Linked DNA regions of Homo sapiens. The protein of the gene in region 2 purifies or fractionates together with the protein of the main gene of each other region. This does not show direct contact. Each region holds a gene or a part of one and is shown on either strand. Other genes may lie near its edges. The genes, in order: TRUB1, SETMAR and CAPG.

Evidence for each region.
Region 1: the proteins of SETMAR (region 2) and TRUB1 purify together in Homo sapiens (affinity purification with mass spectrometry; one large-scale study listed by BioGRID and IntAct). This does not show direct contact.
Region 3: the proteins of SETMAR (region 2) and CAPG purify together in Homo sapiens (affinity purification with mass spectrometry; one large-scale study listed by BioGRID and IntAct). This does not show direct contact.

The regions. Positions count from the first base shown.
Region 1 is NC_000010.11:114,944,674-114,948,332, reverse strand, and holds part of TRUB1 (pseudouridylate synthase TRUB1), read right to left. Parts: intron 1-3,659. UniProt on the Homo sapiens protein: Pseudouridine synthase that catalyzes pseudouridylation of mRNAs and tRNAs. Mediates pseudouridylation of mRNAs with the consensus sequence 5'-GUUCNANNC-3', harboring a stem-loop structure. Constitutes the major pseudouridine synthase acting on mRNAs.
Region 2 is NC_000003.12:4,313,345-4,315,701, reverse strand, and holds part of SETMAR (histone-lysine N-methyltransferase SETMAR), read right to left. Parts: coding exon 1,941-2,357; coding exon of another isoform or gene 1,863-1,940; exon of another isoform or gene 1,307-1,862; intron 307-1,306; coding exon of another isoform or gene 214-306; exon of another isoform or gene 135-213; intron 1-134. UniProt on the Homo sapiens protein: Protein derived from the fusion of a methylase with the transposase of an Hsmar1 transposon that plays a role in DNA double-strand break repair, stalled replication fork restart and DNA integration.
Region 3 is NC_000002.12:85,397,186-85,400,401, forward strand, and holds part of CAPG (macrophage-capping protein), read right to left. Parts: intron 2,101-3,216; coding exon 1,951-2,100; intron 1,598-1,950; coding exon 1,505-1,597; intron 968-1,504; coding exon 835-967; intron 1-834. UniProt on the Homo sapiens protein: Calcium-sensitive protein which reversibly blocks the barbed ends of actin filaments but does not sever preformed actin filaments. May play an important role in macrophage function.

The DNA.
Region 1 (3,659 bases), on a different chromosome or scaffold from region 2:
AAATGGCATTTCAGCTGAACCTGGAAAGGTCAGTAGGACTTCTACAACCAAAGGTGCTGAGAGAGATGAGCAGCTTATAAAAGAAAAACATGAGCAAAGGCACCACATTTGAAAAGGTGTGGAGAATTTAGAGAGCAGATGAATAACGGGGTTTTCCATGCACTGTTGCACAATTACTACTCTCCTACTCTATCTCCCAAGTGTTCTGTGCTCACTCAAATGTCTTTTCCGTTAAAAAAACAAAAACAAAAATAACTATCTCCAAACTTATCCAATGTCCTAGTATCCCATTCTCAAATCAAAAAGATAGAATTTGTTTATGATGAGAGTCTCTTTAGGACAGGCATGGACTCTATACATGTATTTCCAGCTTTCTGTAGGATCATCTTACAAGACCTGTATCTTTCCAATCGTAGGAATCTATTTTAAGAATCTGAAACATCTGGCTGATACAGATGTGTGGGTAAAAACTAAAAACAAAACAAACAAAAAGTTCTATCTATAAAGACATCTCTCACAAAATCAGTTCTGACAAAACTCTGGTGATAACCTCAGTGACCTCAAATAGGGAAATGGTTAATAAATGGTATTTTAGCCATATGATGGAACATTTTATAGCCATTAAAAATAAAGTTTACAAAGAGCTTATCAACATGAACAATGTTTATGTTACAATGTTAAGTTTAAAAAAATGGATATATAAGTATACACAGTGAAGTAGATCTCAACTTTAAAAATCTGCATAGACAAAAAGCTACAAGGAAATATGGCAAAAATGTTAACTGACTATTGATGAAAGGTGGAAAATGGATAATTTTTTATTTGCAACTTTCTTGTATTTTCTAAATTTTCTCACTGTTTCTATAACCTCTAAAGTTAAAAAAATTTTTTTGAAATGGTATATAGAAATTTTATTTACATTTTAAGTGATTTATGATAAATAGGTGTATTCCTTTCCTATTGCTACTGTTAACAAATTACCAATCTGTCTTAAAACAATACAAACTTTTTATCACATAGTTGGGGAGGTGAGAAGCCTGAAACAGGTTTAACTAGGCTTAAAATCAAAGGGTTGGCTTGACCGTGTTCTTCTCTGGAGGTGCTAGGGGAGAATCCTTCACTAGAGCCTCCGTAGAGGACCTTTTTTTTTTTGCCTCCTCCAGCTTTTAGAGGCTGCCCCCATTCTTTGGCTTGTGATCCCCTTCACTCTTCAAAGCCAGCAACCACATTACTCCAACCTCTGCTTCCACTGCCACATCTCCTCTGACTCTCTCTTCTGCCTCCTCTTCCACTTTTAAAGAATATTGTGATTACATTGGGTCCACTTGGAAATTCCAGGATAATCTATCTTAAAGTCAGCTGATTAGCAACATCAATTCCATCTACAACCCTAATGTTCCTTGTGATGTAACCTAATATATTCACAGGTTATGGAAATTAGGACACAGACACCTTTAGAGGGCCATTATTTTGCCTACCACGTATTTTTGAGAAACTTGTGAACCCTCTAGCAATTATGCTATAGAATTATAAACCTGAATTTCAGGTTATAATCTTAAATTGTCAGCTAAATTCTTAATCTGCACCATTAATATTGCAAAAAAAAATGTTGAAAGTAAAAGTATATTTTTTTTGCATAGGTCCAGTTTTAGTTTTGTTTGTTTGTTTGTTTGTTTCAAAAAAGACCTTTTGGCCGGGCATGGTGGCTCACACCTGTAATCCCAGCACTTTGGGAGGCAGAGGTGGGCAGATCACTTGAGATCAGGAGTCCAACACCACCCTGGTCAACATGATGAAACCCTGACTCTACTAAAAATACAAAAATTAGCAGGGCATGGTGGCAGTCGCCTATAATCCCAGCTAGTCAGGAGGCTGAAGCAGGAGAATCAGTTGAATTTGGGAGGTGGAGGTTGCAGTGAGCTGAGATCACGCCACCGCACTCAAGCCTGGACAACAAGAGCAAGACTCATCTCAAAAAAATAAATAAATAAAAATAAAAAAGACCTGTATACAGCACTTCACAGGATAAAGTATATATCTATATACTATAGGTATTTTGTAAAATATTTTTGAAAACCTTTTGACTTAGTTTTGGTAGACGTTATCTTCTTTTAAGAGATGAAGACACGTTCAGTGAAGTTACGAGATTTTCTTAGGATGTATACAGTTAGTAACTAAAGCAGCCAGTAGCCAGTGTACAAACCGAAGTATGATTAGAGTTCAGTGTTTATTTTATCACACAATCAAAAATCGACTTCTCATAAGTTTCCAGAACTGCTAACTTGGACAACAAACATCCCTTACTCTGTGACTAAACACCTACAATTTTTTAAACTTTCTCTCTCCTCGGAAATCACATGCATTAAAAGAAAAATTAATACATCTGACATATGAACATATTATATCATCATAAAATTCCCTGTGTGATCAAATATAAATTGAGCCTCCAACCAGAAAACTGTTTCCAATACAATTTCTTCCACGCATACAAATCTCAGCCCCTTCACAATACTAAAATGGAAGCTTCAACAAGATCCCTTAGGCCAAGAGTGTCCAATCTTTTGGCTTCCCTGGGTCACAATGAAAGAAGAATTGTCTTGGGCCACACACATAATACACTAACGATAGCTGATGAGCTTAAAAAAAATAAAAATCACAAAAAAACTCATGATGTTTTAAGAAAGTTTACAGATTTGTGTAGGGCTGCATTCAAAGCTGCCCTAGGCCACGTGCAGCCCACAGGCCAAAGGTTGGACAAGCTAGCCTTAGGTTCAGGGTAAAAACTAAACTTTCATTCACTGCCTTGAATATCACTATTTTCTGCATGCCAATGAAGAACCGCCACCCGAAATTAATAGAATTGATCTATTCGTAAACAAGCAACTGATCTGATCCTCTCTTTCCTTGTATTTGTGGTGCCATGCCTGGAAAACAGTAAAGCAGAAGGGTTAGAAACACAGGCTTCAACTCAAAGGCCAACTCTAATCAACTGGTATAGGCTACTGAAGTGCTAAGCTGGTAAGAATCATGAAGCCCTAATTTCTGCCAAGAGCACAGGGCATGAGGAACAAAAGCAGGAGCACCAGGTATCTGCCATCCACAATAGGGCAGATGATTTGGAACTGAGCAGATCTGGGCTCAAATCCTGACTTTGTCACTCACTAATTCTATGACAGTGAACATGTTACTTTATCTCTCAGGGTCTTCCTTTCTTCTTCTGTAAAATGGGGATAGTAATAACCTCTCTTATAGGTTACAATGAGAATTAAACTATAGAACTTATGAATACCCAAAACTGAAGACCTTATATACAGTAAATGCTCAATAAATGCTTGTTATTATTAACTGGGGTTTTTGTTTTGTTGTGCTTGTTTTTTTGGGGTGCAGTGGTGCAATCACAGATCACTGCAGCCTCAACTTCCCAGGCTCCAGTGATCCTCCCACCTCAGCCTCCCAAGTAGCTGGGACTATAGGTATGTGTCACCACACCCAGCTAATTTTTTAATTTTTTATAGAGATGGGGTTTCGCCACATTGTCTAAGCTGGTCTTGGACTCTTGGGCTCAAGCAATCCACCTACCTCGGCCTCCCAAAGTACTGGGATTATAGGCATGAGTCACTGTGCCCAGCCTGATTTTTTTCTATTTTATGTTTGTTTAT
Region 2 (2,357 bases):
AAGTGGAAGTATATTTTTAAATGTTTTCTCTCAAAAGAAGTGTCAACATTCTCAAAAATATGGCAATGAAGCAAACAAATGCAGTTAACTTGCTGCTTAGAAAAGACTTGGAATAAAGACTCTTTGACTCTTACCTTAGGAATCTGGTTTCTAGGATTAAGTGCTATATAATAAACTAGTGCCTGAGGACAAAAAATTTCCAGGGGTCCATATTCAGTCAGTTGTCTCTGGCAGAGGCACTGAGTTGGAGGGGGCTGTTTGTGTCCTTGTCTCTGAATGGAAGATTGTCCTCTGGGAATATCTCTGCTGTTCAATATAGAAAGGCAAAAGGACATAGAAAAGGGTATCTGCAGAATCAAATGGTGAGCCAATCATTTTCCTTCTAACCACTTCCATATTGCGTCTGAAGCAGCTCAGTTATTAGGTGAGCTTGTGAGCAAGAAAAAGCACATTTTGGAGTGAGGGATACAAGCTGCCTTATTAAAAGCAGGACTGCTTCAGAGGCATTGAAGTAATAGAGGACAGTTGGCATGGAGAAATGATTAATTTGGAGGAAAATTTTTGATACTATGTATTTGTAATTTGGGGCATTTTATGTGTACTCTAGTACCATTTGTTCACAGGGAACCATTCCATGTAATGTTATATGAACATTATAAACCCTAAGATACTTAAAAACGACCTAGCTTTATTGAGATATAATTCACACGCTGTATATTTCACTCATTTAAAGTGTACAATGTACTTATATTACAGAGGAATAGTGTTATATATAACATGGATTCCTATAATGTTGAAAGTGCAGGGCCTCCTAGTGGTAGGGTTTAAATGTACTAGAGAAGAAATTAAATTACTTAATAATATCATAGGGGCTCTAGTAATTATTTTAGCTTTCAAAATGTCTGATAAACCTCCACAGTAACTGTATTTTTGCAACATCCCTGCTTTAAGGAAGGTAGTTAGAGATGTTTGCTGCTCTAGAAGTTTAAACGGGATCATAAAACTCCCGTCTCCTTCTGTGGTGTGGACAGGGTTATTTTTCTGTTATTTATACATGAAGTGAGGCTGTTTGAAGTTTTGAAGCATAACTTCACAAGATTTGGAGTACAGCCAAGTATATAATGAAAATGAAAAATTTACAATGTGTCTCTTTTTCTGACTTTTGGTTACAACATGTAAGTCATTTTCATAGTTATATTTTTCACTACTGGTAGTACTTATTAGGGTTTTAGCAGGTGATAGTTAATAATGCCTTTTTCCTTGATCCATGCTTAGAAACAATTAAGTAGGACGCAGGAGTCAGACAGAAATCAAAAAGTCAGCTTTATTACTGTTAAAATTGGTTGGCAAGCAGGGTTTAGGTATGCAGCCACAAGGGTTTCTTGGATCATTATTAGGTTCGATGTTAGTGCTAGAAAACTTACAATAACAGTGACTTAAGCAAGGGAGAGACTATTTCTCACCTGAAAGTACAAAGGTGTCAGATCACGACTGACAGGATGTTCTACAGTACCAGACACCTAGACTCCTTTTAACCTTGTTGATTTTTCTATGCAATGGCTTCCTTTCCCAGGGTCATCCTGGGGTCTAGGATGACTGCTCCAGTTCCAGTCATCATGTATACATTCCAGCCAGCAGGAAGAAAGAGGAGGTGAAGGGCAGGATATCTCCATTTAAGGACTTGTCATTTTTGCTTATATCCTATTAACTAGAACAGTCACTAAGACAAATCTAACTAGGAAAGTGAGTATTCTGGGTAGTCATGTACTTTTGTTAAATGGAGAATTCTATTACAGAAAGGGGAAAGGATACTGATGGACAACTTGCAGTCTCTGCCACATTCCTGAGTTAAACTTATGTAACTAGGCAGAGGTAAAGCTAGCCAACCACTGTCTTCCACTATAGGGAGGGGCAAGCTGCTTATCACTGAACAGACTCACCTCAAGGGTCAATCGCTTGCAGGAGGGGAACACAGAAGGGGCTGAGCCACACATGCTGGGTTCCTTCTCATTTCCACAACTGATGTTCGACTTTTCTACGGGGCAGTACAGAGAACTGTCAAAAGGCAGGAAAGCAGTACATGATTTGGCACCACAGTAACAAGGTTTCCTTAGTTTCCCATGATCTAGCCTTTCTTTGTCTTCACTGACTGTTAGATTAAGATATCTTCCTGAATAATCATAAGAGAGTTCTTCTTCTGGCACAATATCTTTGGCTGCAAAAAGTGCCAACTTAGGTACCATTGAGTCAATTCGGACAGGAATCATCAAAAGGTTTGGCTCACAAGAATGATTAAGGAATCTTCCAATATTTCCTATATAAGTAGGGTCAACAAATGTTTCCATTACCTGCCCATT
Region 3 (3,216 bases), on a different chromosome or scaffold from region 2:
CCCAAAGGTCTAGAGCTGGGCTAGGGCAGTGGTTCTCAAAGTGTGATCCCTGGAACCAGCAGCACAGACATAACCCATAACCTTGTTAGAGATGCATGTTCTGCCCCACTCCAGACCTAGTGAATCAGAATCTATGGGGGTGGAGCCCAGCCATCTAAACAGGCCGTGGGGTGATTCTGAGGCTTGCTGTAGTTTCAGAGCCATTGTCTAGAATTTAGGAGGTGGGAACAGCAAAGAGAAAATGGCGAGGCAGTGGCTCACATCTGTAATCCCAGCACTTTGGGAGGCCGAGGCCGGTGCATCACTTGAGGTCAGAAGTTCGAGACCAGCCTGGTAGTGAAACCCCATCTCTACTAAAAATACAAAAATTAGCCAGGTGTGGTGGCACGCACCTGTACTCCCAGCTACTCGGGAGGCTAAGGCAGGAGAATTGCTTGAACCCAGGAGGCAGAGGTTGCAGTGAGCCAAGATCGTGCCACTGCACTCCAGCCTGGGTAACAGAGCAAGATTCCTTCTCAAAAAGAAAGAAAGAAAGAAAGAAAGAAAATAGCAAGGCCTATGCCATGGCTCACGCCTGTAATCCCAGCACTTTGGGAGGCCAAGGTGAAGATCACTGGAGGCTGAGAGTTTGATACCATCCTGGGCAACATAGAAAGAACCCATCTCTATCTTTTAAAAAAAATTTTTAAAGAGAGAAAATGGTCAGCCAGAAGCATGCAGGCTTCCTGAGGCTGTCTTTTACAAGCAGCTAGACAGGCTGAGTCCTGCAAAGGGAAGCCTGCCCGGGTCAGAGCAGCTACAGGCATCTCAGGCTGTTACAGAGGAGCCACGTACCCTTCCAGATATAGATCTTGCCACAGAGCCCGTTGTCCAGCACAAAGCAGTCATCAGATATCAGCAGTTCAAGGGCAAATGGGCTGGAGTCAGCCACCTTGGTCAGGTTCATCTGTCCAGTGGCATCAGAGACCTGGGGAGGAGGGACAGTGCCTGATCTCACCCCCCACACACCAGCCCTCACCTCAGCCTGAGGAGGGGGAGGCTGGTCCTCCCTAGGTCCCTCCCACTGTGCCTCGCTGCCCACTGCCCAGGTCCCAGGAGCAGACAAGAGAGTGAAGACCTGAAAAGCAAATTCCAGGCAGCCCCACTCCCTCTCATCACCCCAATCCCTGCAGCACAGGGGCCCCGAACCCATTTGGAAATTAGGTGGATTCCAAATTACAAAGAAATGCACAGAATTCAAGAAAGAAAAGCTCAGCATTGGCTTCAAGCCTTCACCAAGCATAGGCTGGAAGTGAGGTGCACTCATCTCCTCAGGAGGGCCTGCCTTCCGCCCACTCCCCATCCTTGTCTCACTCCCAGCCCTGTATAACTCCCCACCTCCCACCTCGGTTCCAGCCCCACCTTCCCCCTGCCTTCTCCCCTCCACCCTGCTTGCATGCAGCTGTGCTGTGCAGGCTCCCACCCTCCCTGCTGCCGGGTCCCAGGGCAGGCTTGGGGGGCCCACCTTATACAGAGCTGCGGCCTGGGCATTTGCCTTGTCAGCTGTGAGGTCTTCCTCAGGGTTGCCCTCCTTCAGAGCAGGCTTGGGGCCCAGGACCTGCAGGGGCCAGGGCAGGCCAGGTTTATAGGGACCCCTGCCCTGGAACTTCCCAGCCCATCATGCCCAGGGCCACTGCTTCTGGTGGGGCAAACTGCGCCCTGCACTAGGGCACCCAGCAGAGGTGAGGTGAGTGAGGGCTGAGTCCAGCCCACCCCACCAGCCAGGCTGCTCAGCCTCGAGGACGAGCATCTACCCAGAGGGGCACCCTGTGAGCTGGCCACAGCCCTAGGCAGTACACCAGATGGCCCCTGCCACCCTCCACCGGCCACTCTCAGCCCTCAGCTCATCACCACCTCTCTTGGCCACTTTCAAGCAGAGGCTCCCAGCCACCCACTCCAATGTCCCCCAACCTGGATCATCTCAGCAGGCTCCTCCCCATCAGTGACAATCTCCACCTGGGCCTTGCCCTGTCGCTCACTGTCCCGGATGGCCAGGGCCAGGTCCCTCGCCTTGTTGCGTTCCAGGATGTTGGACTTTCCACCACACCAGGCGAAGATGTTCTGCAAGGAAGCAGGAAAGTCCGGGTCAGAGCCAGATGCCTGTGTCCTGCTCCCCAGCTCAGAGAAGGGCGCACAGCTCTCCCTCTCTCCTCTCTGAACTGTCCCTGAGGCAGGACAACCAGGAAGGCAGAGCACAGCACAGAGGGCTCTCTGAAAATGCCCACGACCACCCACTGCAACTGTTTCTCTGCCCACCTGCCATCTGTCTTCCTTTCTTTTTTTCGAGACAGGGTCTCACTCTGTCATCCAGGCTGGAGTGCAAAGACGTGATCATGGCTCACTGCAGCCTTGACGTCATGGGCTCAAGCAATCGTTGCACCTTAGCTTCTAAGCAGCTGAGACTATAAGCACTTGCCACCATGCCTGGCTAATTTCTTAATTTTTTGTAGAAATGGGGTCCCACTATGTTGCCCAGGCTGGTTACAAACCGCTGGGCTCAAGCCTCTTTCTTTTTCTTTTTTTTTTTTTTTTTTGAGATGGAGTTTCGCTCTTGTTGCCCAGGCTGGAGTGCAATGGTACAATCTCAGCTCACCGCAACCTCCACCTCCTGGGTTCAAGAGATCCTCCTGCATCAGCCTGCCGAGTAGCTGGGATTACAGGCATGTGCCACCAGGCCCGGCTAATTTTATATTTTTAGTAGAGATGGGGTTTCTCCATGTTGGTCAGGCTGGTCTCGAACTCCCGACCTCAGGTGATCTGCCCACCTCGGCCTCCCAAAGTGCTGGGATTACAGGCGTGAGCAGCCACGCCCAGCACCTCTTTATTTTTCTTCCCATCACATATCTCCTATGTTTAAACGTCTCTTAACCACCTATCTCCACCTACTAGAAAGTGAGCTTCATTAGGACATGAAGGTTTTGTTTGGCTTTGCTCACCACTGTGGGCCCACTGCTAAAACAGAGCCCGGCATGGATTTAGGCGCAAAATAAATATTGACTGACTGAGTGAAGGACTGGATGGGTGAATGGCTGAATGGCTCCTTGAGCGCAGCATCTCACACTTCTACCCACCGCCCTGCCAGGCAGAGCCCCTGTCACCTCTCCTTTTCTGGTAATGGCGAGGTCTGTTCACCTGTCCCCTTCCTTGTCTCAGCACGTGTAGTCCTCACCAAGAGCT